Linked DNA regions of Homo sapiens. The protein of the gene in region 1 purifies or fractionates together with the protein of each later gene. This does not show direct contact. Each region holds a gene or a part of one and is shown in the gene's direction. Other genes may lie near its edges.

The links.
Region 2: the proteins of USP25 (region 1) and KCTD10 purify together in Homo sapiens (affinity purification with mass spectrometry; 5 studies listed by BioGRID and IntAct, with this or other methods). This does not show direct contact.
Region 3: the proteins of USP25 (region 1) and BTBD9 purify together in Homo sapiens (affinity purification with mass spectrometry; 4 studies listed by BioGRID and IntAct, with this or other methods). This does not show direct contact.
Region 4: the proteins of USP25 (region 1) and MYO6 purify together in Homo sapiens (affinity purification with mass spectrometry; 2 studies listed by BioGRID and IntAct, with this or other methods). This does not show direct contact.

The regions. Positions count from the first base shown.
Region 1 is NC_000021.9:15,830,566-15,838,218, forward strand, and holds part of USP25 (ubiquitin carboxyl-terminal hydrolase 25), read left to right. Parts: coding exon 1-36; intron 37-835; coding exon 836-1,064; intron 1,065-2,761; coding exon of another isoform or gene 2,762-2,775; exon of another isoform or gene 2,776-2,782; coding exon 2,783-2,983; intron 2,984-7,653. UniProt on the Homo sapiens protein: Deubiquitinating enzyme that hydrolyzes ubiquitin moieties conjugated to substrates and thus, functions in various biological processes including inflammation and immune response.
Region 2 is NC_000012.12:109,452,957-109,460,609, reverse strand, and holds part of KCTD10 (BTB/POZ domain-containing adapter for CUL3-mediated RhoA degradation protein 3), read left to right. Parts: intron 1-2,528; coding exon of another isoform or gene 2,529-2,531; coding exon 2,532-2,618; intron 2,619-2,927; coding exon 2,928-2,980; intron 2,981-4,296; coding exon 4,297-4,492; intron 4,493-6,955; coding exon of another isoform or gene 6,956-7,123; exon of another isoform or gene 7,124-7,653. UniProt on the Homo sapiens protein: Substrate-specific adapter of a BCR (BTB-CUL3-RBX1) E3 ubiquitin-protein ligase complex. The BCR(BACURD3) E3 ubiquitin ligase complex mediates the ubiquitination of target proteins, leading to their degradation by the proteasome.
Region 3 is NC_000006.12:38,629,530-38,637,182, reverse strand, and holds part of BTBD9 (BTB/POZ domain-containing protein 9), read left to right. Parts: intron 1-7,653.
Region 4 is NC_000006.12:75,885,239-75,892,238, forward strand, and holds part of MYO6 (unconventional myosin-VI), read left to right. Parts: intron 1-765; coding exon 766-856; intron 857-1,605; coding exon 1,606-1,756; intron 1,757-4,818; coding exon 4,819-5,027; intron 5,028-5,989; coding exon 5,990-6,068; intron 6,069-7,000. UniProt on the Homo sapiens protein: Myosins are actin-based motor molecules with ATPase activity. Unconventional myosins serve in intracellular movements. Myosin 6 is a reverse-direction motor protein that moves towards the minus-end of actin filaments.

The DNA.
Region 1 (7,653 bases):
ATTGAATTAATGTACTCTGACAAATCTATGATACAAGTAAGTGAAATTTTGAGCTAGTAATCATTGTCAAAATTATTTACATATATTTTAATTTACCTTTACATTATCTTAATCTAATTTTTCTTTACATGTTTTGTTTTAAAATTTTGGCAAATCTTATTGTAAAATAATAAGGGCTTGCAATATGTACAATGTGACAGTTCATCTGAATGGGGAAACTTTTATAACAAATTTATAACAAAATTCATGACAAGTTTTCCCCATTCAGTTGTATTTTCACACCGTATGTGTTGTGTACCCTTACTATTTTACAGTAAAATCTACCAAAGTTTTTCAAAAGGCTATAGCATCTTTAAAAAGTCTTATGGGAGAAAATCTATGGTTGTTAAAGGATATTAAGATTTGGGAAGAAACTTAAGGACTCCATTACATTTTAACTTCTGGTGTATATCATATAATCTATTTTGTTAACCGTCAATTTAGAATTCTGAAGATGTAGACACATTTGCTATATGTAAAACTGCCCACTATAAGCTTTTTATTCAAATAAACAATTAGGCCAATGAGTATGTACACAATAAATACATTTTTAGTTTTTCAAAAATCATCTTTTTAATCTATCAACTTTGCATATCTTTAGCTTATTCAGATTCCGTCTTTTTAAAGTTTTATAGTTTAGTTTTTTTCAAACTTTTAAGCCCAGCCAGTTCTCTCTCATTTAAAAAAAAAAATGCTCTTATGGTTTTCTCCAAACAGGTTGTTTGTGGGTTTCATGGAATGTGGTATATAGTAAACTACATAATTGCAGTTTAACTCTTCTTTTTTTCACATTTAGGTTCCTTATCGATTACATGCCGTTTTAGTTCACGAAGGCCAAGCTAATGCTGGGCACTACTGGGCATATATTTTTGATCATCGTGAAAGCAGATGGATGAAGTACAATGATATTGCTGTGACAAAATCATCATGGGAAGAGCTAGTGAGGGACTCTTTTGGTGGTTATAGAAATGCCAGTGCATACTGTTTAATGTACATAAATGATAAGGCACAGTTCCTAATACAAGGTAAGAATATATAGGGTGGTGTGTATTTTTAAATAGTCATAAAAGTGGCTCTGGTATGTGGTGTGATTAGTTAAGTGTAATTCACTCAGACGATGAAGGATGTGGTTAGGAAATGCTACTGGGTTTTGACAAGACTGAATTGAAAAGTAATGTCGTCAGGGCTAAGAATTCGTATATATTTTGTATTCCAAGTCAACTATTAAAGGTAAATATGACCTTTTTCGTCCTTGCTAAAAATGCTTTAGTGACTGTTCCACAGATTGACTCACATTTAATATTTAATTCCTTAGCCTAACATATATGGCCTCTGTTCTTGGCCTCTGATTATCTCCCCACCTTCATTGATCACCAGTGTTCCTTTTGAATTTATATCCTTACTGAACTTCTTGCTGTATCTGCTCATATCAAACCATTTCACACATTTATGTTTGCATGTTCGTATATGTTTTATTTTTTGCTAGTAATTCTTTTGCCTAATTCTTGTTTATCTGTCAAGATTCAATTCAGGTGTCATTTCCCCTGCAAACTATTTCTTGATCTGCCAAAAAGTATCTCTCCTTATGCTGTCCTGGCATCTGTCTACTGGGCATTTACTGTTGTGTATTGGAACTGTGTGATGACTTGTCTTGCACATTTCTCTCTTATCTGCTCAGAGCCAGAGATCATGTCATACTATGTCTGAATCTTTTTAATGCTGATATTCTGATATATGCTTTGCATATAGAAAATAATAAAGGTTTATTGAAACTGATAAAAATAATCTTTTTATATTTAGTCATTCAGAATCAGCTAGGCAGTCCACTTCTGACTAAAAAAATGAAGTTATTTTTCTGTGTGTGTAGTAGAAGTTCAGTAATTCTTCTGAATACTCTATTGTTTTTAAGATCTTGCTATATTAATTTTCATAATTGCATATTTAAGTCTACTTAATTTCTTCATATGACAAACAATTTTCATTTTATTTTGAGCTAATAAGGTTAACATGATTATGAGTTGTTTACATTTTGTGAAAAGTTTTACTTTTTAAGTGATCAAACATCTGGTATTTTCCAATAGTGGCAGAAGTAGTATTACATCACTGTTAGAGTAGCAAAGAAAAAAAAAAATGGCCGGGCGCGGTGGCTTATGCCTGTAATCCCAGCACTTTGGGAGGCCAAGGTGGGCAGATCATGAGGTCAGGAGATCGAGACCATCCTGGCTAACACAGTGAAACCCCATTCTACTAAAAATACAAAAAAATTAGCCGGGCTTGGTGGTGGGCACCTGTAGTCTCAGCTACCCGGGAGGCTGAGGCGGGAGAATCGTCTGAACCCGGAAGGCGGAGGTTGCAGTGAGCCGAGATTGTGTCACTGCACTCCAGCCTGAGTGACAGCATGACACTCTGTCTCAAAAAAACAAACAACAACAGCAACAAAAAACTTGGCTTTGGCTTTGTATTTTCTGTCACTTCTACTCTTAAGATAAAAAAAAATCTGAGACCATTACCTATGATGGATTATCAAATATTTTCATCATTGTTTTTCTGAGCATTTGTTTGAGTTTTAAAAAGTTTTGTAGATAATAATTATTTGCTAAGCAATAGTAATTCTTAAGTAATATGATTGGCTGAGTGGTAATAATTCATAGTTTAAATTCTATTTGAAATGCAGTCTATTTTGAGCTTTGCATTTTCCCTTTAATTCTTAATTTTATACTAGTTTTTGAAATATGATTTGCAGAGGAGTTTAATAAAGAAACTGGGCAGCCCCTTGTTGGTATAGAAACATTACCACCGGATTTGAGAGATTTTGTTGAGGAAGACAACCAACGATTTGAAAAAGAACTAGAAGAATGGGATGCACAACTTGCCCAGAAAGCTTTGCAGGAAAAGCTTTTAGCGTCTCAGAAATTGAGAGAGTCAGAGACTTCTGTGACAACAGGTTTGTCCATTTTTATTAAGTTGTGTTTGATTATCAATATTATTTTTATAATAAGATATGCTCATTATTAAAAAGTTTTAGCTATCTTAAAGTGTGAGGAAATCAGTAGAAATCATTTCAAATTCCATCACTCAGATTATCACAGTTAACAATTTAGTTTACCTTTTTGCCAGACACCACTGTATATATTTATATGTTTTTCAAGATAAATGAGATAATTCTGTTGACTTTCCCTCTACCTACTCTGCCTGTGTTGGGTGGGCTTGAATTTTCTTGGCAAGTAGCAGAGAAAGCTGTGAAATCAGCAAGAAACCCAAACCAATTCACTAAAGCTATCAAGAGTATCAATTCAATAAAGCTATCAAGAGTATCAATTCAATAAAGCTATCAAGAGTAGTAATTTTAAATTTGGCCAAAATAATACTACCGGTATATTCATATATACTTTGTGCAATAGTAAAATACTACCATTAATAACTATTTGATGTTTTTCGGAATTCTTAAGATTAAGAGAAAATTGACCAAAACTATTTAGTATATCACAGGTAAAAAGTAAGTGTATAGACCTGTAAACCAAAGATATAAATGCATAAACATATAAATATTTAAAAACATTATTCTGAAATGAACTATTAGCTGATGAAATCAATAAGTCAAAGTAAACACTGTATAGGAATTAAGAAAATAGTTTCTAGTAAAATTGAAAATATATTGTCTTTTTATTTTCTTAAAAGATTACTCTTCACTGAGTTGCAAATATGTTTTAGGGCAACATGTTTTCTGGTATAGAAAATGCTATTTCTCAGAGAAGCTATAAATTAAGCGCATATATTTTCCTCAAACTCATTTGTCTCTTTTTATAACTGCTAGTGGATATTATTGAATAACTTTTTTTTTTTGCAAGATCTGCATGTTTTGTGTTTTAAGGAAGTAGTTCCAGCTTTTGTTTGTTTAATTTCATCTTTCGCAGACAGAGGTTTCCTTGCAGCATTACCTGGTTGGGCTTCAGCATTATCATTTGAACTTTAGAAGGAATTATTACTTCAATAGAAGATTGTTTTACAGTGCTACAATGTAGTATTGTGACTGTCGCAGGCATGCACAAATCTGTCCAGATACTTAACTTATTTTCATGTAGATCAAATAATTGTCGTTGATTTTGATCCTGAGAGGCAGATAATTCAGCATTTTTTAAAAAGATAATGGTATCACAGCAACATTTGGATACTACAGTGCTATGGAGAATACCACCATTATAGTGGCTGGTGAACTCTACCATTATGTAGGGCTGCACTTTTCCCCCACGTGTACAAGGCTACCGCGTAGAGCAGGTGAAGCTATGTGGGTCCACAACAATGTAGTTTTTAGTAGATGTCAAGAGGTATCTAAGCTCAAATCACAGTGTAGTAACTATATTATAGTTCCTTTCATTTTTAAAACATTTCTGTCCCTTTGTGATTTCATGCTTTGCATTCTGTACATATTCTTTCCAAATCACTCCTCAGAACCTGCCCCAAGATGGAGCTACTGTGTTATTGTTCCCTTAACATTTACTTATTCCATTCACATGTGACTATTCTTGTTATTAGTGGGAGGAAGGGGCTGCATAGTGTACTATAAGCAGTTGTGGTACCTAAGCTCCCAGACACAGGTGAATCCTCCATTCATTGGTTAAGCTCCAGTTTTATTCTTGGCTCACCTATATTTTGTGATACCAAAATATTAAGTTCTATATATCCTCCTCCTCTTCATCCTGTCTGTTTCTCATCTCTCCAAATTTTCAGAGTTAACATATTTTATTTCTGCTTAGTCAAACGAATACATATTTCCAACTAATATTCCTATCTATTAAGGACTAGCCTTGCCCCATCCTCATTTTACATTTGTCATCTTTTTTCTTTCTCTGTGAAAAGACCATGTGTGCATAACTGCATCCATTTTCATGATCAATACATCTGACCATACACTTTACATGGTGTTTTGTAATTTTTAAAAAATGCAGTACTAGGTATTGGACATATATTTTCATGTCTGTTTTTACCATGCAAAATAATCTTAGAATGTTGATATATTTCTGGGAGGAACCAGAATAAAAGATGAAGAGATGGAAATGGTCAATTCCTATTCCTAGATAACTTTTATAGTTACCTTTCAGCGTGGGTTATTTAGAAAGCAGTGGTAATACTACTTCTGTAGGAAACATTGTATCCTCCATAGACTTGACGGAAATATGCACTTGGTTTGAATTAGTAGAAGTAGAACATGCCAAGTCCATAAATTTACAGAGTGAGATTGTTGTTTAAAAGATTGGTTTCTATTACTGTTATCTTTGAGATTATATTAAGAAATTTGTTCTCTGTTGCAGGATAGTTTCACATATCATAATTGAATAAGACTAATGTTTCATTAGAACCATTTATTCCCTATTATTAATAGGGAAATTTTATTTTAATGTCCATGCCATCCTCTTCTGATTCTTCTCATGGTTTTCAAAGTAAGTAATTTAATTTGGTATAATACTTCCAGGATCTCAAAGCAAATCTGTATTTTAATCTCTCAGGTGTTCACTAGTATTACCAGTGACTAGTGGAAATAATAAAAGGAAATCTTGTTCATAAAATCCAACAGAATGATTTTTTTCCTCCCTGCAAAATCTTCTCGTTAAAGCTGAAACATAAGACCTCATAAAATTCAATTTCTACTGAGTGATATTCCAATTAAGAGTACTAATTCATATTATATTAATCAAATTAGTATTTGTTCCTCTTCTGCTAAAATGTGATCGAGAAATTCATGCGTATCAGTTCACCAGCACCATTCGTTCCCTACTGAGATAATAAATGATGGGAAAGTATTTTTTGGTTCATTTCATGCTGCTTCCCTAGATCTGCTTACTGCAAAGGCAAACTTACCTGAATACTTTTGTTGAGATTTTCAGCCAGCCATTCTTTGCTGTCAGTGTGGGGATCAGAATGAGTAGGGGAGCAAACTTACCTGAATACTGTTGTTGAGATTTTCAGCCAGCCATTCTTTGCTGTCAGTGTGGGGATCAGAATGAGTAGGGGAGCAAACTTACCTGAATACTGTTGTTGAGATTTTCAGCCAGCCATTCTTTGCTGTCAGTGTGGGGATCAGAATGAGTAGGGGAGCAAACTTACCTGAATACTGTTGTTGAGATTTTCAGCCAGCCATTCTTTGCTGTCAGTGTGTGGATCAGAGTGAGTAGGGGAGCAAACTTACCTGAATACTGTTGTTGAGATTTTCAGCCAGCCATCCTTTGCTGTCAGTGTGTGGATCAGAATGAGTAGGGGAGCAAACTTACCTGAATACTGTTGTTGAGATTTTCAGCCAGCCATCCTTTGCTGTCAGTGTAGGGAACAGAGTGAGTAGGGGAGCAAACTTACCTGAATACTGTTGTTGAGATTTTCAGCCAGCCATCCTTTGCTGTCAGTGTGTGGATCAGAGTGAGTAGGGGAGCAAACTTACCTGAATACTGTTGTTGAGATTTTCAGCCAGCCATCCTTTGCTGTCAGTGTGTGGATCAGAGTGAGTAGGGGAGCAAACTTACCTGCATACTGTTGTTGAGATTTTCAGCCAGCCATCCTTTGCTGTCAGTGTGTGGATCAGAGTGAGTAGGGGAGCAAACTTACCTGAATACTGTTGTTGAGATTTTCAGCCAGCCATCCTTTGCTGTCAGTGTGTGGATCAGAGTGAGTAGGGGAGCAAACTTACCTGAATACTGTTGTTGAGATTTTCAGCCAGCCATCCTTTGCTGTCAGTGTGTGGATCAGAGTGAGTAGGGGAGCAAACTTACCTGAATACTGTTGTTGAGATTTTCAGCCAGCCATCCTTTGCTGTCAGTGTGGGGATCAGAGTGAGTAGGGTTTTTTTTTCTGAGTGTGAACAGCACACCCTACCTAAGGCCACTTAAGAGACACTGGAGTCAGAATCTCTGGAGAAAGGATCTGATACAGTGCTATCTTAAAGAGATCTTCAGATAATTCTGAGGTTAAGCAGCATGGCTCTAGGCTGTATTTATAAAACAGAAATTATGCTGGAGAGAAGAGCGTTGTCCGAGTTACTATTTTACTTATATTACTCTTGTCTTATCCAAGAAGTATCTGAAGTCCTTACAATATAGCACACCCAGATTTCTTTAAAAAATAAGGAAACACTAGTGAAGATTGGAATGAAGTGTATTGCGTAAGGTTTTATAAATTTCTCTAGAGGAAGCAGGCAGAGTTGGCTCTGGAACTTCTCTACACTGTCTACAAGTTAAAAATAAGCTGATGTTCCAGGAGAGTACGGTTGGATCCTGAGAGTAAGACCTGGTAGAATAAACAGTATCGTCAGTGTTCTCAGATTCCTTGAAAGCAGGAACTAGGTGATATTCTTTTTTTTTTTTCTGAGACAGTTTCACTTTGTTGCCCAGGCTGAAGTGCAGTGGCATGATCTTAGCTCACTGCCTGCCGGGTTCAAGCAATTCTTGTGCCTCAGCCTCCTGAGTAGCTGAGACTACAGGCATATACCACCACACTGGGCTGATTTTTTTGTATTTTAGTAGAGACAAGGCTTCACCATGTTGATCAGTCTTGAACTCAAATTCCTGAGCTCAGGCAGTCCTCCCACCTCAGCCTCCCAAAGTGCTAGGATTACAGGCATGAAGCCAC
Region 2 (7,653 bases), on another chromosome or scaffold:
GGGTGGAGAGGCACCAAGCCTACCTGCCTTCCTCATTTTCCCTCTCTGCAAAATGGGGGCAGTTTCTGTCTGACTGAGATGTTGTGAGAGTTAATGAGTTTGCCCTGGAGCCCGATTCCTTCGGTTGGAGTGACCCCTGAGAGGCCTCCCTGGAACAGCAGGCCACCTAACTACTGTGTCACTCCTTGCAGCCCCATGCTGTTGGATCTTCTCATGTGTACATCTCAACCCTTCAGCAGAGAACCCCGCGGTGTGAAACTTGGTCGGTGTTCGGGACCAATCTTAGGGCTTACTCTAGTCCCACAAGTCATTGTTGGGAGCTCAGCATAATCTCTACAGACAGACACCCCTCACTCCTTAGCTAGACAGAGCAGGACCACTGGAGTCAGGTCTGGTGACAGTAAAATCCCACAAAAACAAAATGCTTCTAGACATGGCCAACACCCCTTTATTTCAAACAAAGTTGCAACGTGGCAGAGCATCAGAAGCATCCCTTTGGGTTTTCGTAGGAATCTGGTCTGTGTGCATGAGGCCCTTGTTTGGGCCTCCCCCACACCACATGTCTGTGTCTGGCCCCGCACCGGACCAGTACCCATAATGCTGCACACCACCTCTACTCTGAGAGTCTGAACTCACTGCAGACCTAACTGAATGTTGCAGCATTTACTTTTTTATTATTACTACACTGTTGAAAGTGATGCACATGCATCCTTCAAGAAGTCAAATAGTGCTGCAAGGTTAACATCAAAACACCACCATACCCCTCCTACTCTCCTTCACCCTTGCAGTAACCTCTGTGAATTCTTTCAGCAGTTTTTTCTGTTCACATTTATGTTTCCACATAATTCGCCTGTGCTGCTCTTTATTGAATTCCCAGTTTTTGACATTATCTACTGGCATGACTATAGAAACTAGAATTTAGCTCACGCACTGCCCCTACCTCTACCCCCACCAAGCTTAGGCATACTTTTCCTTCTCCCATTCTCCCAGTACAGTTCATCACAGTTTTGGTTAAATTCAGAGTTTACGTCATGACGTGTAAATACGGCTGACAGTTAAGCCACAGAGTGTACAGTGATTATTTTCTTTCTTCTATAACTTTAAGTTTGCCAGAGTTAGGGATTGCCTCATTGTTTTGTTCACTTGGTTTTCTAAATATATGTTCCTACTTCAGCCCCACGTTCTCAGCGGTCTCATAGTGGTGTGTTCAGACACATCAGAGGTTCTGTTTCATCTTTGTCTTGGAGACATGCCCCTGGGTCTCGTTTCTGTTAGTCTAAGGTTAGACCTCCAGGACTGACCTCCTAATTCTTTCCTCTTAGTGTCTCTGGCTTTATCCTTTTGTTCTACTTTCTCAGAAGTTTTATTTTTCACCTTTTCAACCCTTCTATCAAAATTTTCATTTCTGCTTCGTCTTTCTAACTTCAGGAGCCTTTTCTTGCTGTCCGAATGCCCTGCTTTCCACAGCGTGCTCATCTTGTTTCCTAGGAGGCCGTATCTGCTCTCAACTGTCTGATGATTCTGTTTGTTTTCTTTCTTCTCCCTTCATTATCTGACTCCTCCTCTTTTCCTGTCTTTGTTTTGGTTTTGTTCTCATGTTAAAGAGGCTTTTCACATGTAATCTGATGATGCTTGGCTGTCTGTTGAAGGAATGAGAGACTCTGAAAGCTGTTTGTGCATGGAAGGTCCTTGTTGTCCACTGGGCTGCATTGTGGGTGATAAGGCAGACTTTTTCAGCGGGACCCCCAACTGTCAGAATCTGTAAGCCATTTTGGGGGAAGCAGGTGGTGTTCCTGAAGAGGAATCCTCTACTCTCCTCCTGCCTGACGGGTCTAGGCCTGGCCGGCTGCCTTTGGGGATCTGGAAGGGGAAGGAGCTGGGGTTGCTCATCACTTAGTGTGATGTTCACTTGTCCCCCCGTTTTCAGAATCGCAGCTCAGCCCTGTCCTCTACCGTGCAAACCACTGCAGGAAGATGGCCCTTTCTTCTGCCTGCATGGGGACGGAGATGGATTTGGGGATCTTTCCAGTGCTTCCGCCCACTGGTTTCAGCTTTCCCCCTCTCCTTGGTTAACGCTCACCTGTGACCTTTCTACCCTCAAATTTTTGACTTTTTTTACTGGTCTGCTGACCTCACTTCTCCCATTCTTTTTCCCCTTATGGGTTTATGCTTTTTTTTTTAATTCCTCTGCAGTCATGGTAGTGGGGTTTTAGGAGCTTTTGATTAAAACACGTTTCTGCTGCCACGTCAAGGGTTTATTTTTGAGTGGCTTCCTGGGCTGTGGAAAATGTGTCATCATTGTTAGTACTTACTCAGCATCCTGGCCTATCATGGTCATAGCCAAAGAGCAGACTTACTGGGAAATTCAACTCCCTGTCTTCCCCCATCTAGTTCACTGGTGGTGAGAATCCTTCTCTCTTCCCAGCCATGACTGCCCCATCTCCCCTCGCCAGAGCCTGTCCAGCCGGTCAACTTTAAAAATGCAGTGCTAGGCAGGCCTCCTAGGCTGAAAGCATGTTTTGTTCCAGCAGAACAAAGATACTTATGAGCCTTTCTGCAAGGTCCCTGTGATCACCTCATCCAAGGAAGAACAAAAACTTATAGCGACTTCAAATAAGGTATGTTGGAGGCACCCTTGTGGAATTTCTTTTGCTACCAGAAATGATGGAGGTTCTTCTGAATAACTTTTGAAATAAAAACATGTATAATTGCCTGAGTGAGGCCTGATAATGGGTTCACAGTGGGAAGCTACAGGTCATCTTTTGTGCCCCTGCTATTGGGTCATGTGGTCCCCCTCTCCAGCCAGCAAGCTATGCTTGTCTGCCTCTTCTGATGCAGGGCAGGGCCCCAGCCCTATGGGAAGCTAGTAGTTCATTGCATCTGCCTGCCAAGTAACTCTCTTCTTCTTCTTTTAAAACAACCCACAGCCAGCCGTGAAGTTGCTCTACAACAGAAGTAACAACAAATACTCATATACCAGGTAAGGCGTCAGCCGGGAAAGACAGCTCCATTTACTAGGAAAACCTCCACTCACACCAGCCAGGCCCAGCTCTTCTTCGTACCTTCAGATGAGGATGACCCCTCTGTACCTCTCTGCCTGGATAGATAAGTAGACAGATGGATACAGGGGTATAACTCTGAGCTATAATTCACACATATCATAAAAGTCATCTTTCTAGAGTGTACAGTTATTATTATATTCACAATATGTGGTTTTTATATATTCACAAGTTGTGAGGCCATAACGACTATCTAATTTTAGAACTTTTTCACTGCCTGAAAAGAAACCCTCTATTCGTTAGCAGTCACTCCCCATTTTCCCTCAACCATTGCTTCCCCAACCCCACAGCCCTAGGTAACCACTAATCTGTTTTCTGTCTTGATGAATTTGCCTGTTCTGGACATTTTTATGTGAATGGAATTGCATAATATATGGCCTTTTGTGACCAGATTCCTTCATTCAGCATAATGAGATTACCTAAGAGGTTTTCAAGGTTTATCCATGTTGTAGCATGAATCAATACTTCATTCCTTTTTATGGCAGAATAATATTCCACAGTGTAGACCACATTTTCTTTACCCATTCATCAGTTGATGGACATTTGGGTTGTTTGCACTTTTTGGCTATTGTGTGTAATGCTGTTATGAACATTCATGCAAAGTCTCTATGTGGACTTACGTTTTCATTTCTCTGGGAACAGAATTGCTGGGTCATGTGGTAATTCTATGTTTAATCATTCGAGGACCTGCCAAACTGTTTTCTAAAGTGGCTGCACCATTTTACATTCCCACCAGCAATATATGCAGGTTTCTAGAATGCCATTTGGCCCTTGAAAACATGTGGCTCTAACTCAGGAACTTGAGGGATGCAGGGAGGATTTAATCAGGTTACTCAAGATCTTTAAAAAGACCTAGGATATAGAGTCTCCCTTGGGCAGTGCCATTCTGCTCCTCTTGGGGCTCGGTGAGGTGCTCTCCTCCACCTGGTGCCTGTGCCCAGAGGCTGTCACTCAAGCACAATGGTTAGGAGCACTCAGGCTTAGGGGCCAGGGCTGTCTTTTGGGGGGCGTGTCTGCCATTTATTAGGTTCAGCCTTGAGCAATTACCTAATTTCTCTGATCCTCACTTTCCTTCTTGAGTGATGGAGATTGGAGTGCCTTTGTCATGGGATTATTGTGAGGTTGAAATGAGGTAGTGGAGAAAGTGGGCTCAGTAGGGCCCTGCGTGTAGAAGGGCCCAGCAAATGATGGCAGTTTTTACCAGCTTGTGGTCACCGTATCAAATGCTCTTTTGCAGCAATTCTGACGACAATATGTTGAAAAACATTGAACTGTTTGATAAGCTGTCTCTGCGCTTTAACGGAAGGGTCCTGTTCATAAAGGATGTTATTGGGGATGAAATCTGCTGCTGGTCCTTTTATGGTCAGGGCCGGAAGATTGCTGAAGTCTGTTGTACCTCCATCGTCTATGCCACTGAGAAGAAACAGACCAAGGTAAGAGCCTCGAGAGGACAGTTTGGAGTGGCTGTTCTGAAACACACACCTATAGAACTTCCTTTCACTTGAGCCCAATACAGAGGGAAATGCTTTTAAAATGCTTTGCTTGCCTTGTGATTGCTCATCCTTAAAATATTTATCTTTTAGGCCCTGCAAGGAGCCAAATGTAGGGTTCATCTGGCATTCCTTTAGCTCCCTACCTTGCTGGCTTCCTTCCAAGCATGCTTGACTCCCTGACTGGGCTGGACTCTGGGGATGTGTTTTTATATCATCCTCTCCAAACCAGTAGGCTTGACCTATCCTTTGACTTCTCCCACCATGCCGTTCCACAAAGCTGGATTGCTCTGCATAGTGCTGCTAGAGATCTGGCCCCCCCTTAATTGAATTTGCCTGCCCTTTTGGGGCTCTGCAATTGGGTTTTCTGTCTTTTTAAACTTTTAATTCACATTATACACTCTGTCATTTCTTTAACGTGTCTAAGGGAATTCTGGCTATCCAGTGACATGCAGCAGGTCTGCTGTGGGCCGACGGTCATGCCTCTTGTCACCCTTGCACAGGAGTCTTAAGAGCCTGAGCCTGTAGGTCACTTACCCAGGTTACTATTGTCCCTGCAGCTTTTGGGGCCACAGTTCTGCATGATTCTGTAGCTGACCTCGAACAAAAAGCAAATGAGAAGAAATCATCACATCACAAAGTAGAAACCAGAGTCTTTTTTTTTTTTAACTTATTATTGAAAATTGAAGCCATACACAGAATTATAGTGTGGTGATTTCCCCTGTGCCATCACGCCACGTCAAGGGCCATCAGCTTGGGCACTCTCACTCAGTCTGTATCTACTCCTCCTCCCCAGCACTCACAGGATGAATTTGACAACATATTTTATTCCTAAGCATTCAAAATCTATCCTAAAAGAATAGATATTGTTCTTAAGGTAGCCAAGAAGTGCTAAACACTGAGGTTCTTTTTGCTTTCAAAGATCCCGGGGGCAGGGGGTGAACCAGAATCATCTGCCTCTCTCTCCACATTGGCAAGACATCATGCCCCTTTTCTCCTGTGAACTGTTTTTTTTTTTTCAGGGCTGTGAATTCTTCCTGTAATTAGACCCCCATTCTGTCATGGTTTGATTTTTTAAAAATATACCTGGGCTGCCTCTGCCCTTGGGTAGTAAGAGGAGAGTCACCATATTGATTAAGCTTTAAAAGATTAAGACTTCTCATTTTTAGAGCTTAATAAGGAACAAGGGGATTTAGAGACCACATGGTCTGATCCCAACTGTTTCTAGATTAGCAGACAGGTTCAGGAGTGGCATGTTCTTGTGTTTGTAAAGCTAGTTAGTGGCAGAGCCAGGATGGGAAGCCAAGGGCCTCTTTCTTTTCTCTTTGTTTTGAGAGAGAGTGTTGCTCTGTCACCCAGGCTTGAGTACAGTGACACAATCATAGCTCAATGCAGCCTTGAACTCCTGGGCTCAAGTGATCCTCCTGCCTCAGCCTCCTGAGTAGCTGGGTCCACAGGTGCATGCTACTACACCTGGCTCATTTTATTTATTTTTGTAGGGACTGGCTTTCACTATGTTGCCCAGGCTGGTCTCGACCTCCTGGCCTCAAGTGGTCCTTCTACCTTGGCCTCCCAAAGTGTTGGGATTACAGGCATGAGCCACTGCACCCAGCCCATATCACTCTCCTCTCCTGTCTCATCTCCACTCTGTTATTGAGCCCTGCTGGTAAGTTGTGTTTTTGTTTGAGGTTGTTGGTTATTGTATTTGTCAGTTCTCAAGTGCTCATTTGGTTTTTCTGTCTCCTTGCTGAGACTCCCTATGTTTCCATTTGCTCTAAGAGCATTGGCCCTTACTTACTGGAACAGGTTAATAATAGCTGCTGCCAGGTCTTTGTCAGGTAATTCCAAAACCTTGTGTCACCTTGGCGCTAGCATCTGTGAGTTATTTCCCACAGGAGTTGAGAATTTCTTGGTTCTTGTGTATTGAGAAATTTTGATTGTATCCTAAACATTTTGAATATTGTTAAAGGACTCCAGGCCTTGTTTAAATCCTAGGGAGAACATTGATGTTTTTGTTTTAGCAGGCAATTGACCCAGTTGGGCTCAGGCTGCAAGCTCTAACCAGCCTTCTGTAGTTTGTAGTTGCGGTGACAGTTTGATTTTCAAAGCCTTCAAATCTGTCCTAGCTGTGTGCCATGCTGTGGCCCGTCTGTCCTGGGCAGTATCTCTTGCAGCATTCAGTTCTTTCAGTCTGCGTATGCAGTTTAGGGGTAGATCTTGCAGCTGGGTGTGGGTCTAGGAGTTCATATACAACTTCACAGGCTGCTTTCTCAAGCTCCTCTTCTCCGCAGTTCTCTAAGCTTCCCTGGAGTCCCCTTCTCTGATCGGCCAGCCAGAAAGCTGGGGGTTTGGTTATTCCCCCTTTGCCACCCACTTTCTGTAACCATGCCTGTATTTTGGGCCCAGGAGCATGAAGATAGAAAAAGCAACCAGATTCTCCCAATCCTGCTGAGACCACAGCTCTTCTCATCAGAAAAGAAGGTTCCTTCCCTCAGAGTTTTGACTCCTGCAGTCTCTGGTTGCTGCCACAGGAATGCTCAGGTCTGGGTGCAAGAAAATAAAGAAAAGGACTGAGCATGGTGGCTCACACCTGTAATCCCGCACTTTGGGAGGCCAAAGCAGAAGGATTGCTTGAGTCCAGGAGTTTAAGACCAGCCTGGGCAACATAGCAACACCCCTGTCTCTACCAAAAATTTTTTAAAAAATAGCTGGGCATGGTGGTGTGTGCCTGTAGTCTAAACTACTTGGGAGGCTGAGGTGGGAGAATCATTTAAGCCCAGTAGTTCAAGACCAGCCTGGGCAACATAGCAACACACTCATCTCTACAAAAAGTTAGTTGGGCATGGTGATGCATGCCTATAGTCTCAACTACTTGGGGAGGCTGAGGTGGGAGAATCATTTGAGCCTAGGCGTTCAAGGCTGCAGTGAGCTATGATTGTGCCACTGCACTCCAGCCTGGGTGACAGAGCAACACTCCCTCTCAAAACAAAAAAGAGAAAAGAAAGAGGCCCTTGGACTCCCGTCCTGGCTCTGCCCCTAACCAGCTTCACAAACACAAGAACACGCCACTCCTGAACCTGGTCTGTGAATCAAGAAACAGTTGG
Region 3 (7,653 bases), on another chromosome or scaffold:
GTGACAAATTAATCACTTTTGGAATGAATAATGTGCTGGGGGAGTAGAGTGCTTTGGCTGGAGAAAAAACTGATAGGGAACATGTTGAGAAGAAGGGGATGGAGCTTAGCTCTGAGGGTTAAATAAAATTTCGCCACATGTAGAGGTGGAAGAGAGCATTCCAGGGGCCAGCATAAGCAAAGTTGCTGAATATTAAAATTAAATAGCGCTTTTGGAAATATCTTGAGTTGTTTCTTGTGGGCAAGAGAGGGGAGAGGGCTGAACTCATCTCAAGAACCCATTCCTGAGATAATGAACCCATTCCTGCTATAATGGCATTCATCCATTCATGAGGGCCTAATCACTTCTTATTGCATGGGGGAAGTGATGAGGCAGGAAGCTGTTTTTGGAGCCAAATTATGAGGGGGTCTTCCACTTCATCCTAAAAAGTCTAGACTCCTCCCATCCATTGGCAGTGGAGAGCCATAGAAGGTAGAATAATCAGAAAGTTGACAGTTCGTGTGCAGATTGCATTAGAGTAGAGAGGCAGGGAGACTAGAGTGTAGGTGAGAAATGTTGGACAATGGGAATGGATAGATTTTGGAGACATTTTTAGATGTTAAAATCTCTACATTTATGACCAGCTAGAGGTAAGGGAGAGTGAGAAGTCAAAGATAATATGTCTAGTTTGAGCAACTGTTTGCTTATGATGACATTAAGTTAGAAATCACAGGAAGAGGAACAGGTTTGAAGTGGAGAGAAGAAATAATGGCAGTGTTAATTCTGAGGTTTCTGTGGGGAGTTTAAAAAGAGAGATCCACTAAGTAACTGGAAATGCTACTTCAGAGTTTATGAGATGGTTAGGGACAATTGTAATATAGATGTCCGCTGAGGCTGTGGGAGTAGCAACCTTCTAGGAGGCATGTTAGTATAGTAGTTAACTTAGTGGACTTTGGAGTTAGGAAGATGGCAGGTCAAATCTCTGTTATGCTGTTTATTGGTTGGCTGACCTTTGGCAAGTTATTTAACTTCTCTAAGCCTAGGCTTCTTATCTGAATTAAAGAATTGTGGAGATTATACATGTGCACAGTGATTAACACAAAGGTACTATGTGCACAGTGATTAACACAATGCCTGTCTTATAGATGCTTAATATAATAAATGGCAGCTGTTGCTGTTATTGTTAGTAGTAGTTATAGATGTAGAGATAGTAGGAGAGGCCCCAATGCCAGAAAAATGGAGAGTGAGAACTGGAAAAGATGGTGAATGGAACTTTTGGACGTTTAAATCAGTATTTAAACTTGGATCAGTTCTTGTCTTTGTTTTGTGCTGCTATTTCATATTTTATGTTTCATAATGGCAGCACAAAACAAACTAAGACAAGAACTGATCTAAGTTTAATTTATAAAGAACAGTCTGGTTAATTTATAAAGAACAGAAATTTATTTCCTGATAGTTCTGGAGGCTAGGAAGTCCCAGATCAATGTGCCAGTATCTGGTGAGGGCCTTCTTGCTGTGTCATAACATGGCAGAAGGCATCACATGGGTGAGAGAGAGAGGGAAGGGGGCTGAACTGATCATGTCAACCTATTCCCACTCTACTGGCATTAATTCATTCATGAGAAAAGAGTCTTCATGGCCTAATCACTAAAGATCCCACCACTCACTGCTGTTGCATTGGGGAATCATGTCTCCTCTAACACATGGAGGACACATGCAAACCATAGTAGTTCTAAAATTTGAAAATGCATTGGGTAGACCTGGAGGTGGCCAGGTGTGGTGGCTCATGCCTGTAACTCCAGCACTTTGGGAGGCTGAGGTGGGTGGATCACTTGAGGTCAGGAGTTTGAGACTAGCCTGGCCAACATGGTGAAACCCTATCTCTACTAAAAATATAAAAATTAGCTGGGTGGGGTGGTGCACACCTGTAATCCCAGCTACTCAGGAGGTTAAGGCAAGAGAATCGCTTGAACCCAGGAGGTGGACATTGCAGTGAGCCGAGATTAGGCCACTGCACTCCGGCCTAGGTGACAGAGCGAGACTCCATCTCAAAAAAGAAAAAAAAAAAGAAATAGCTGGAGGCTTTGGTAAAGCACAGATTTCTGGGTCCCACCCCCATAGTTTCTGATTAAGTAGGTGTGGACTGGGGCTTGAAAAATTGCATTTTTGAACAAGTTCCCAGGTGATGCTGATGGTGCTGTTAGAGGATAGATGAAAGAAAAGGAACCAGCACTAACAAAGTGGTTGAAGTGTATGGAGAACCAGGAGATAGTTTAGAGAAGAATAAGAATTTTAACAGCCTCCAGACTCTCTAGGTCTACCAGTCTGATTTCCAATTTCGTAGAGCTTATCTCATTCTTATTTTTGTTTTCTCCAGAATCTATTATAATGCCTGATACATAGCAATAACCTTTGAAGCTGCTTAATACTGTCCTGGTGCATGATGGCATGTACCTCACACACAGATTTCATTTATCCTCTTTTATCTCTGATGAGTCATGGGGAGGATATGATTTCTAATTTTACACACACACAAAATAACTACAGAAAATTTCTTTCATATATCTGGTGTGTAGCTATGTGCATTTGACTTTGTGTTAGATGCCCTCTCCCCCCCCTTTTTTTTTAAAAAAAAGGAACAATCCAGTTTGCAAAATAATTTTTAATAATATGTGCCAGGATTCCAGTCTGTGTCCTGTATTAGGCACATTGAGTCTTAAAAGGGAAGCAAATAATATATTCCCTGTTCCTGGGAAGTTTACAGATAAGATGGGTGAAATGAGCAAAACCCACAGGAAAGAAACAGGAAGAGGTATAATCACAGAAACATGGATGTAGAGAATCTGAATCTAAGGACATATTCTTTGCTTGCCAATATTCTTTGGGTTTTACATGTTTCATATACTGAAGACTTTTGGCATATAGCACACATGTTAGTCCTAGTGAGAGGAAGTTATAAGGGAGTTCCACTATATAAGGAAATAAAACAGTAGCTGTGCAAAATTATAAACACATTTGTAAAGGGAGTGAAATTGGAGTTAAATTGGAGCTTCATGACTGACAGCTTAGCTACTCACTATTCTGCCTAGGTGCTTGTTCTCTCTCATTTATCTCCCAGCTAACATTCATTAAGCATTTATAGTGTGCCAGAAATCGTGTGAAGTGCTGGGCATAGAGAAAACAATAATTGCCTTGTGCACCTAATTCTGGTTTTACTTGGGGAAAGGAATGTGCACACATGTATGCATATTGTCAGGGTGAAGGAGCCTGACTTTTATAATCTTAAGATTATATTGAAGGAAGAGACATTGAGGACTTGAAGTTAAATTCATTCAGCCTTATGTATTCAAGGGGCCATGACGAGTATAGGGATGGGGCCATGACGCGTATAGAGATGTATATTTTTTTTTTAGCAATCAAATTTGTAATTTGATAGAGGAGAAAGAACATATTTGGAGTAATAAAAAGAATACGATAAGTACTGTATAAATATTGATTACAGACTAGGTACTCTGGCTTCTTAAGCAGCTAAGTGTTCAGTTTTAACAGCAACTCATAAGCTATTGTAATGTTTCAGAAATTATAACATGTCATAAGTCCACATTAACCTCCTGGGCTGCCTTTGCATCTGAATATGAGACACAAAAATATTCTGGCAGTCTGTGTCCCTATTTTCTTGATTTGGGAAGTATATGCATAATGCATATAAGCAAAAGAGTAATTAAAAACAAGGTGCTATTTATCTAATGGCTACATTATGCAAGGCCCTTTCTATATACTGTTTCATCCTTGTAATGACAACCTTGTCAATTTGACATTATCTCCATTTTACTAATAAGGTAACTGAGTTCCAGAATGGGAACTGTTTGTCTGTAGCTTGTGGCCAGTGAGAAGTGGGACTGGGCTCCAGTACAGACCCAGGTGTGGACTCTGCAGCCTGTGTTCTTTTTACTTCATGCCAATTCCTTATGTCACCATGGGTCTTCAGCATGTTAATATCTTGATGTAGAAATGCAGTCTCATTTCTACTGTTTTAGGAAAAGTTACTGGAGGAAGTTAGAATTTTAGTAACTGCCTAAATGTTTGAAGACAATTTGATAATATAGTTAGGGATGGAAGGGAATGGGGGCTGGATAATTAATGGCCCCAGTGCTGATTCTCCTATGAAGACGTGCTGTATTTGACCCCAGTTATTTTTTAGTTGACTCACAGGAGATCTTACATGAATATTCAGATTTCCCACTTTTTATTTATTTTTATTTTTTTCAAATAGAGACAGGGTCTGGCTCTCTTGCCCAGACTAGAGTATAGTGGTGTGATCCTAGCTCACTATAACCTCGACCTCCTGGGCTCAAGCAATTCTCCCTTCTCAGGCTTCTGAGTAGCTGGGATGACAGGTGCATGCCACCATGCCTGGCTAATTTATTTTTGTTTCTATGTAGACAGGGTCTCACTGTTTGCCTAGGCTGTTCTTGAACTCCTGGGCTCAAGGGATCCTCCAACTTTGGCCTCCCAGAGTACTGGGATTACAGGTGTGAGTCACTGCACCCAGCCCCACTTCTTTATGTATAGGTGCCAAGTTTTCTAGAGGAGGAACTGTACTTTTTCAAGTACAGTTCAAGTTTACATTTTTCAAGTTTACATTTTAGTAAAGTCAACTCTTTTAAAAAATCCCTTAAAACTTCACCCCAAACAATGTTTACCTGAGATTTCCCAGCTAATCTCCCTTCTCTGCACATTACTTATTTCCTCCACTTAGGTGTTTATTTTTAAACCTATTTACAAAATTAATACATTCTATTTATGGTTCAGTGTAGTTATTCTGACTTGCAAGGTTTTCATTCCTTGCAGTTTGACTAAGTCACTCTTTGGTCCTATTTTATACATTCCTGGAAATATAGACTGTAACTATCTTTGTAAATGATAGTTAATTTCAGTTAATTTTACAAGAAATATTTCTATAAATTTATAATTCTGCAAATGGAATAACTGTTAAATCAAATTCTATGTTATCTATTGCTGTGTAACAAATTATCCCAAAATTTAGCTGCTTAAGACAACAAACTTTTTTTTTTGAGATGGAGTTTTGCTCTTGTTGCCCAGGCTGGAGTGCAGTGGCACGATCTCGGCTCACAGCAACCTCCGCCCCCTGGGTTCAAGCCATTCTCCTGCCTCAGCCTCTGGAGTAGCTGGGATTACAGGCATGCGCCACCACGCCAGGCTAATTTTGTATTTTTAGTAGAGACGGGGTTTCTCCATGTAGGTCAGGCTGGTCTCAAACTCCAGACCTCAGATGATCTGCCCGCCTTAGCCTCCCAAAGTGCTGGGATTACAGGCGTGAGCCACCGTGCCCAGCCAACAACAAACATTTTTTAATCTTATGATTTCTGTGGGTCAGGAATTCAGAACCAGCGTAGCTGGGTAGTTCTGGCTGAGTCACTGATGAGTTGCAATCAAGCTTTTGACCATTGCTATAGCAGTCATCTGAAGGCTTGACTGGGGCTGGGGCTGGGGCTGGAGGATCTGCTTCCGAGATGGTACACTCACATGGCTGTTGACAGGAGGCCTCAGTTCCTTGCTGGCTGTTGGTAGGGGACCTCAGAAATTTCATAGGGTTGCATGAGTATCCTTATAACATGTCAGCTAGCTTCATCCAGAGCAAGTGATGCAAGAGAGAGCAAGGAGGAAACCATGTGCCTTTTATGTCCTGTTTTGAATATAACACTGTTACTCCTTCTATATTTGATTTGTTATAACGTGGCACTAAGTCTAGCCCATACTCAGGGAGGAAGGCAGTTAGGTTCCACCTTTTTTGAGGGGAGAGTCAAATAATTTGTGGGCATATTTCCAAACAACCATCAATCCTTTTTCCCGTGAAGCCATTTCTTCAGTTGATGTTGATTGTCTCTGTTTTAGCACATGCAATAATTTTTCTGACTTGTATATTCATGGTATTTTCTGGAAATGCTCTGAAGAAAAGGTAGTGGTTTTTAAATTTTAAGGAAAGTTTTCACAAATTACAGATTTGTTGTGGATTCCTTGAAGTTTTATATCCATCACATTAGCTTTAGTACTAATGCAGCCAGAATGTTTTCATTTTTATCCTATTCTATTCTATACATTTATTCTTATACAATTGTATTCATATTTAATGGTTTTAAATTAATCTAAAATAGAACCAAACATTTCTAGGTAAGGTAATTCACTTTCCAAACTTTTAGAAGAAAAATGCTTCCTCAACCACTGTCTGAAGGCACGTGTTTCAATTTCCATATGGTACAGTGACATTGGGCTGCATGGCTTAGATGAGTCTGCTAATTTATAATCCAGTCCTTTGGGTACTTTACTAACTTTTATCCTCAAGTAAGGTCCTAAGTAGATCCATTTTATTTCAAGTCTCATTCTTTAGAAGGTGTATGTAGGACATAATTGGCTTAGGCAACCTTTTCAGAACATATTGCAGTTAGGTTTATATTTTGGCACTTCATGTCAGATATTAACTTTCACTATCCTGACCCCTAACAAGTATAAATTACCTGCTTAACTCTTTTATTCTAGTTTTTAATTTTAATCTAATTTTAGACATACAGGAAAATTGCTGGAATAGTACAAAGAATTCTTTTATAACCTTCACCACATCTCCCAAATGTTAACATTTTACCACATTTGTTTTATCCTTCTCTCTCTCCTTTTGCCCCACTGAACTGTTGAAGAGAAAGTTGCAGATATAATACCCAATCCTTCAATGTGCATTTCCTAAAAACAAGGATATTCTCTTATTAACTGTTTTACAATCATTAAATACTATCGTTGTAGCTAACCTATAGGCTTTATTCATATTTCATCAATTATCCCAATTGACTTATCAATGAATACCCTTTAGAGCAACAAAAACAATAAAAATCCAACACACAAGAACAAAGTGAAACAAAACAAAAAACCAGCCATGTGGTGCATTCAGTTTTTCTTTTTTTCTTTTGGTCTCCTTTTTTTTTTTTTTTTTGAGACGGAATTTCACTCTTGTTGCCCAGGAGTGCGGTGGCACCATCTCGGCTCACTGCAACCTCTGTCTTCCGGGAGCAATTCTCCTGCCTCAGCCTCCCAAGTAGCTGGGATTACAGGCATGCACCACCATGCCTGGCTAATTTTGTATTTTTAGTAGAGACGGGGTTTTCACCATGTTGGCCAGGCTGGTCTCAAACTCTTGACCTCAGGTGATCCGCCCACCTTGGCCTCCCAAAGTGTTGGTATTACAGGCATGAGCCACCACGCCTGGCCTGGTCTCCTTTAATCTAGAATAGTGCCTCAATCTTGTCTTTATAACACTGACATTATATAAGGGTTTAGGCCAGTTTTGTTTTTATTTATTTATTTCTTTTTTGAGATGGAGTTTCATTCTTATTGCCCAGGCTGGAGTGCAATGGTGTGATTTCAGCTCACTGTAACCTCCACCTCCTGGGTTCAAGCGATTCTCCTGCCTCAGCCTCCCTAGTAGCTGGGATTACAGGCACATGCCATCACACCCAGCTAATTTTTGTATTTTTAGTAGAGACAGGGTTTCACCACATTGGCCAGGCTGGTCTAGAACTCTTGACCTCGTGATCCTCCTGCCTCGGCCTCCCAAAGTGCTGGGATTACAGGCATGAGCCACCGTGCCCGGCCTATTTACTTTTT
Region 4 (7,000 bases), on another chromosome or scaffold:
AAATGTTAAAACTGGCTGGGCGTGGTGGCTCACGCCTGTAATCCTAGCACTTTGGGAGGCTGAGGTGGGAGGATCACTTGAGGTCAGGAATTCAAGACCAGCCTGGCCGACATGGCAAAACCCTGGCTCGAATAAAAATACACAAATTAGCCCAGCATGGTGTGTGCCTGTAGTCCCACCTCACCTACTCAGGAGGCTGAGGCATGAGAATCTCTTTTTTTTTTTTTTGAGATGGAGTCTTGCTGTGTCACCCAGGCCGGAGTGCAGTGGCACGATCTCAGCTCACCGCAAGCTCCGCCTCCCGGGTTCACGCCATTCTCCTGCCTCAGCCTCCCATAGCTGGGATTACAGGCGCCCGCCACCATGCCTGGCTAATTTTTTGTATTTTTAGTAGAGACGGGGTTTCACCGTGTTAGCCAGGATGGTCTCAATCTCCCGACCCTACGATCCGCCCGCCTTGGCCTCCCGAAGTGCTGGGATTACAGGCGTGAGCCACCGCGCCCGGCCGAGAATCTCTTGAACCTGGGAGGTGGAGGTTGCAATGAGCCAAGATCATGCCATTGCACTCCAGCCTGGGTTGAGACTGTCAAAACAAAAACAAACAAAAAAGGTGTTAAAACTTTGTTTTTGATGTCTGATATATAATAATATGGTCGTCAAGATTTCATGTTTCTTGAGCATTACTTTGTGAAAATGAGTTTTTTTAATATATGTTAGATTTAAACTGAATAATTTTCTATCATTTTATTTTACTCTTACACATAGTGAAAAACAAAATAAAATATCGAGCTGAAGCCTGCATTAAAATGCAAAAAACTATTCGAATGTGGCTTTGCAAGAGGAGACACAAACCTCGGTAAGATGAATAGTTCCTAAAAAGAACTCTACAAAACCTAGTTACTGTAATACAAAATGACAATAAAGTCATAATAAAAAGCAGTTTGGATACTCAGGTTTTCTCATGTTCTTTGTAAAATGATGTATTAGTCTTTTATTTGTAATATTTATTTGAAGTTAGTTAATTCATTTATTACCTTATTACTTGCCTCATTCTATAAAAGGATTTGAAGTGGCATACAAAAATGTGTAAAGACTATAAAACAAGAAGTAAGTAGTTGAGAGAAGCTCTTTTATTCTGATTATTTTAGTTATTTGAGTTTCTTGATAATGTCAAGGTGACATTTTTTAAAAAACATCTCACTAATATGTTTACATAATTTTCAAGATTATCTGTAGGAATTACATTGTCCCATTATAAATTAGTGTATTTCTTATTTGAATCTTTCATTTTTAATTTACACTTTTAAAAATTGGAAGTCTGAATATCTCTATTGATCCATCACACCTTTTCAAAGAGACTAGATTAATTTCCTCTGTGATTTGAATTCTCAAAGTTGTAGAAGGCTTTAATCCCATTGACAGGCATCAGTGTCATTCACACTCATATTTGATTTTTTTTAGCCTTCAACAAGAGATCTGAAAAAGAGAATAGTAGATAATATTGAAAACAGAAGTGAAATACCCTGTTTAGCATTTTATAAATGAAAAATCTGCCAAAAGTACTAAAGGATGAAATTAAGCTCTAATGAAGTATTATTTTTACAGCATTGATGGTCTGGTTAAGGTGGGCACACTGAAAAAACGACTTGATAAATTTAATGAGGTAGTCAGTGTGTTGAAAGATGGAAAACCCGAGATGAATAAACAGATCAAGAATCTGGAAATTTCTATTGATACTTTGATGGCCAAAATTAAGGTATGTAATTTCAACCCGAATGACTTTGACTTTTTATGTAATTTAATATATTTTGTTATTGGTATTGAAATTGTATAGAAAACGTCCTTAGTTTTTCAAAATTACAAAATGTGTTGAGACTCAATGATGGCAAGTACATGCTCATCATTATTACCTCTACTCTTTATGTTTGAAAAATTTCATAGCAAAAAGTTAAAGAAGACAATTTTTATGCCATTTCTTCTGTTGCTAAGAAAGATATCCCTCGCAACTTAATACCTAGGTGATGGGATGATCTGTGCATCAAACCCACCATGGCACACGTTTACCTGTGTAACAAACCTGCACATCCTGCACGTGCATCCCTGAAATTAAAATAAAAGTTGGAGGCCATACATGGTGGCTCATGCCTGTAATCCCAGCACTTTGGGATGCTGAGGCGGACGGATCATGAGGTCAGGAGATCGAGACCATCATGGCCAACATGGTGAAACCCTGTCTCTACTAAAAATACAAAACTAGCTGGGTGTGGTGGCGTGCACCTGTAATTCCAGCTGCTTGGGAGGCTGAGGCAGGAGAATCGCTTGAACCTGGGAGGCGGAGATTGCAGTGAGCCAAGATTGTGCCACTGCACTCCAGCCTGGTGACAGAGTGAGACTCCATCTCAAAAAAAAAAAAAAATGAAAAAAGAAAACTAAAGTTGGAGCAAAAAGAAAATGGCCGGGCACGGTGGGTCACGCCTGTAATCCCAGCACTTTGGGAGGCCGAGGCAGGCGGATCACAAGGTCAGGAGATTGAGACCATCCTGGCTAACATGGTGAAACCTTGTCTCTACTAAAAATACAAAAAAAAAAAATTAGCCAGGCGTGATGGGGGGCACCTGTAGCCCCAGCTACTTGGGAGGCTGAGGCAGGAGAATGGAGTGAACCGGGGGGGCGGAGCTTGCAGTGAGCCGAGATCGCGCCACTGCACTCCAGCCTGGGTGACAGAGCAAGACTCCGTCTCAAAAAAAATAAATAAATAAAAATAAAAGTGGTGGGGCATGGTGGCTCCTGCCTGTAATCCCAGCACTTTGGGAGGCCGAGGTGGGCGGATTATTTGAGGTCAGGAGGTTGAGACCAGCCCAGCCAACATAGTGAATCGCCGTCTCTACTGAAAATACCAAAGTTAGCCAGGTGTGATCGCACGCGCCTGTAGTTCCAGCTACTTGAGGCAGGAGAATTGCTTGAACCCAGGAGGCAGAGGTTGCAGTGAGCCAAGATTGTGCCACTGCACTCCTGCCTCAGCGACAGAGTGAGACTACGTCTAAAAATAAATAAATAAATGATAAAAGTAATATAATACTATAAAAAATTTGGAGGCCAGATGTGATGGCTCACACCTGTAATCCCAGCACTTTGGGAGGCCCAGGCGCAGGGATCACCTGAGCTCAGGAGTTAGAGACCAACCTGATCAACATGGCCAAAACCTGTCTCCACCAAAAATACAAAAAATTATTTGGGCATGGTGGTATGAGCCTGAGGTCCCAAGGAAGCTGAGGTTAGAGGATTGCTTGAGCCTAGGAGATGGAGGTTGCAGTGAACAGAGATTGCACCACTGCACTCCAGCCTGGGTGACAGTGAGACCCCTGGCTAAAAAAAAAAAAAAATTGGAGAAACCACCAAAAACCTCTTAATACCTCCACATTAACAAATTCAGTTAGTTACTGTTATTTTTACAGTATAATTTTACTTGTTTTTACTTTACCTTACATTCTCTTTTATGCATACATTTTTACAGTTCTTATCATAATATACATTTCAATTTCTATCTCTACCATTGTTATATACTTGTCCATGTTAATACATTATCTTCATAGATACGATAATGTAATTAATTTTGTGAAAATAGCAATTTCCTCTCCAATTTTGTAGGAAAAAAATGGGATCCCTTATTTTGTTTTGATTTTTATTTATTTGATTACTAGTGGAGTTGAAGACTTTTCTATATGCTTGTTAATTATATTTCATATTTCATTAATTACATTTCATATCTTCTCATTATATTTTAGAGTTTTAATGCTTTTTCTCAGTTTCATAGGTCAGTGCAAGTATGTGGGATATAATGAATATCTTAAAGTGAGCGTTTTATATTTTCTGCAGATATTTTATGTAAACAATGGCAATCTTGGAGGTAGAAAGGAAAAAAAAGATCTGGAGGAAAATGAAAATGCTATAAATAGACTCAGCTGATTTTATAAATCTGTCAAGGGCCATCTTTGTTTATGTGGTATCATTATAAATTAAAATTAACCCACCCACATTTTTTGAAGGCTAATTTTAGAAATCCAATAATTTTGGATATATTTTGTAATTTTTAAAATATTCTCTAGGTACTATTTGAACATTATTCTAAAATAGTAGTAAACTATTGCTAAATTAGCTGATCATTACTTAAGAAATAATTCTTTTTGAGATAAGAGGCTTGCTCTGTTGCCCAGTCTGGAGTGCAGTGGCATGATCTCGGTTCACTGTAACCTCCGCCTCCCGGGTTCAAGCAATTCTCCTGCCTCAGCCTCCCGAGTAGCTGGGACTACAGGTGTGTACCACCATGCCCAGCTAATTTTTGTATTTTATTTTTATAAGAGACAGGGTTTCACTATGTTGGCCAGGCTGGTCTCGAACTCCTGACCTCAGGTGATCTGTCCACCTTGGCCTCCCAAAGGGCTGGGATTATAGGTGTGAGCCACTGCACCCGGCCTAGAAATAATTTTTAACTGCAGTATATTACCTTATCCACAGATTACCTGTCTAATTGATGTGTAATACTTGTGTGCAGAGATAACATAAAACATTTTTTGAATAGTATTTAATGTACAAACAGTATAGTAAAGATAACGGACGTATTGCTTACCATCTTACCTAGTTTTTGCTGTATTTGCATATTGGAGTAGTTTTTTATTTTAAATTGTAAAAAACAATAAAAACATTAAAATTTATCTTAGCCATTTTTCAGTTTATAATTCAGTATTGTTAAGTATATTCACATTGTTGTGCAACAGAAGAAATAAGCTTTTACGTACCTATTTATTTTATTTTTTAAAGTCCACTATGATGACGCAGGAACAAATCCAGAAAGAATATGATGCACTGGTTAAAAGCTCAGAGGAACTCCTCAGTGCATTACAGAAAAAAAAACAGCAGGAAGAGGAAGCAGAAAGGCTGAGGCGTATTCAAGAAGAAATGGAAAAGGAAAGAAAAAGACGTGAAGAAGACGAAAAACGTCGAAGAAAGGAAGAGGAGGAAAGGCGGATGTGAGGCATTTATATTATTTTGAATAAGAGACTTAAAGAAATAGTGAATTCTTGGTATTGACAGTGGTTAATGACAATTATTTGTTTTGTTTTGTTTTTGTGACAGGGTCTTGCTCTGTTGCCCAGGCTGGAGTGCAGTGGCGCGATCTTGGCTTACTGCACTCTGCCTCTCGGGTTCAATCGATTTTCCTGCCTCAGCCTCCTGAGTAGCTGGGATTACAGGTGCGCACCACCACGCCTGGCTAATTTTTGTATTTGTAGTGGAGACGGGGTTTCACTATGTTGGCCAGGCTGGTCTCAAACTCCTGACCACAGGGGATCCACCCGCCTCGGCCTCCCAAAGCGCTTGGATTACAGGCGTGAGCCACCGTGCTCGGTTGACAATTCTTAAAACTGTGTTCTTATTTTAATGAACTAATTTTGTAATAAGTTTGAAAATTGAGAGAATAAGGTCATTTTATAATAGTGATACCATAAAATAATTTTAACTATAATCTGAATTTGTTAGCCTCTTACACCTGAGGATTTTCTTCTTTTTAAAACTATGATTTGTTTATTGTTTTCTAAGCTAGATAAATGACACTTCTACTTTTCTGCAGTTTTAAAACTGATAACATTTTGAAAGATTGCCATGATAGGGTAGAGAGAACAGATGAGTTGTTGACTTGGAGAGGGACTAGAGGGAAGCACCTTTAATCAGGACCTTACAGCCAGGCTTTGTAACCACATTCATCTAGAGATGTTAAAAGTTATAGAATATAATTATATTTGTTTTATTTAAGAATTATTGTCAATAGAGTTAAATTTTATTTTATTCAAAATAAGTTGATGTATGTGGCCAGGAGGTTAATTTGCATTCCCAATCTGTTACCTTTGTTTATTATTAAATAATAGTTAAATTGCCTTCTGAAGGATTCTTTATTTTCTGTTAAATTTTTGAAGAGTTTTCTATTTTTTATTAGGAAACTTGAGATGGAAGCAAAGAGAAAACAAGAAGAAGAAGAGAGAAAGAAAAGGGAAGATGATGAAAAACGCATTCAAGTATGTACTTACTGGGTTGAATTTCTATTAAAATGGAACCTACAGGCTGGGTGTGGTGGCTCATGCCTGTAATCCCAGCTCTTTGGGAGGCCGAGGCGGGCGGATCACGAGGTCAGGAGATCAAGACCATCCTGGCTAACATGGTGAAACCCCATCTCTACTTATACGAAAACAAATTAGCCGGACATGGTGGTGGGCACCTGTAGCCCCAGCTAATTGGGAGGTTGAGGCAGGAGAATGATGTGAACCCAGGAGGCAGAGCTTGCAGTGAGCCAAGATGACACCACTGCACTCCAGCCTGGGCAACAGAGCGAGACTCCATCTCAAAAAAAATAAAAAATAAAAAATAAATAAAATAAAATGGAACCTATGAAAGAAGTGAAAATGAGATCTTGATTTGCTAGATAAGCTGTCACTAGTTTATCCTAGAGACCAAAGGCCAGTTTTTGAAGTGGTTATGGGAATGGACTTTGGAGCTAGGGAAGTGGGTTCAAATCCAAGATCAGTCACTGACAGAAATTGTGACATTGTACACATTATAGTGAGGAACTATGGGTCACAGTTGTCTCTCTGTAGAATGTGGATAAATAATAGTTGCAAGCATTTGACAGTTAATACATGTTAAAGCATTGTGAACACTGTGTAGATCAATAAATATTAATAATTGTTTTTATACCTAGGGGAAAGTCAAATGAAAATTCACTTAAAATGTTAAGTTTTAAAATATCATATAACTTTGTAGATACTGGAATTAATAAATTAGGATTAAGAGTCTCTCTCCACCCCTAGTTTTTAAAAAGTCCCATGTTGAGAATAAATTGCTCATGTATTTGAATTTCTGTTTGTCATGGCTTTCATAATATATCCTAAGCATAACCAAAACTTTAAATTCCTGACATCTGCTCTCTAGGTGTTAGTGTTAATGGGATGCC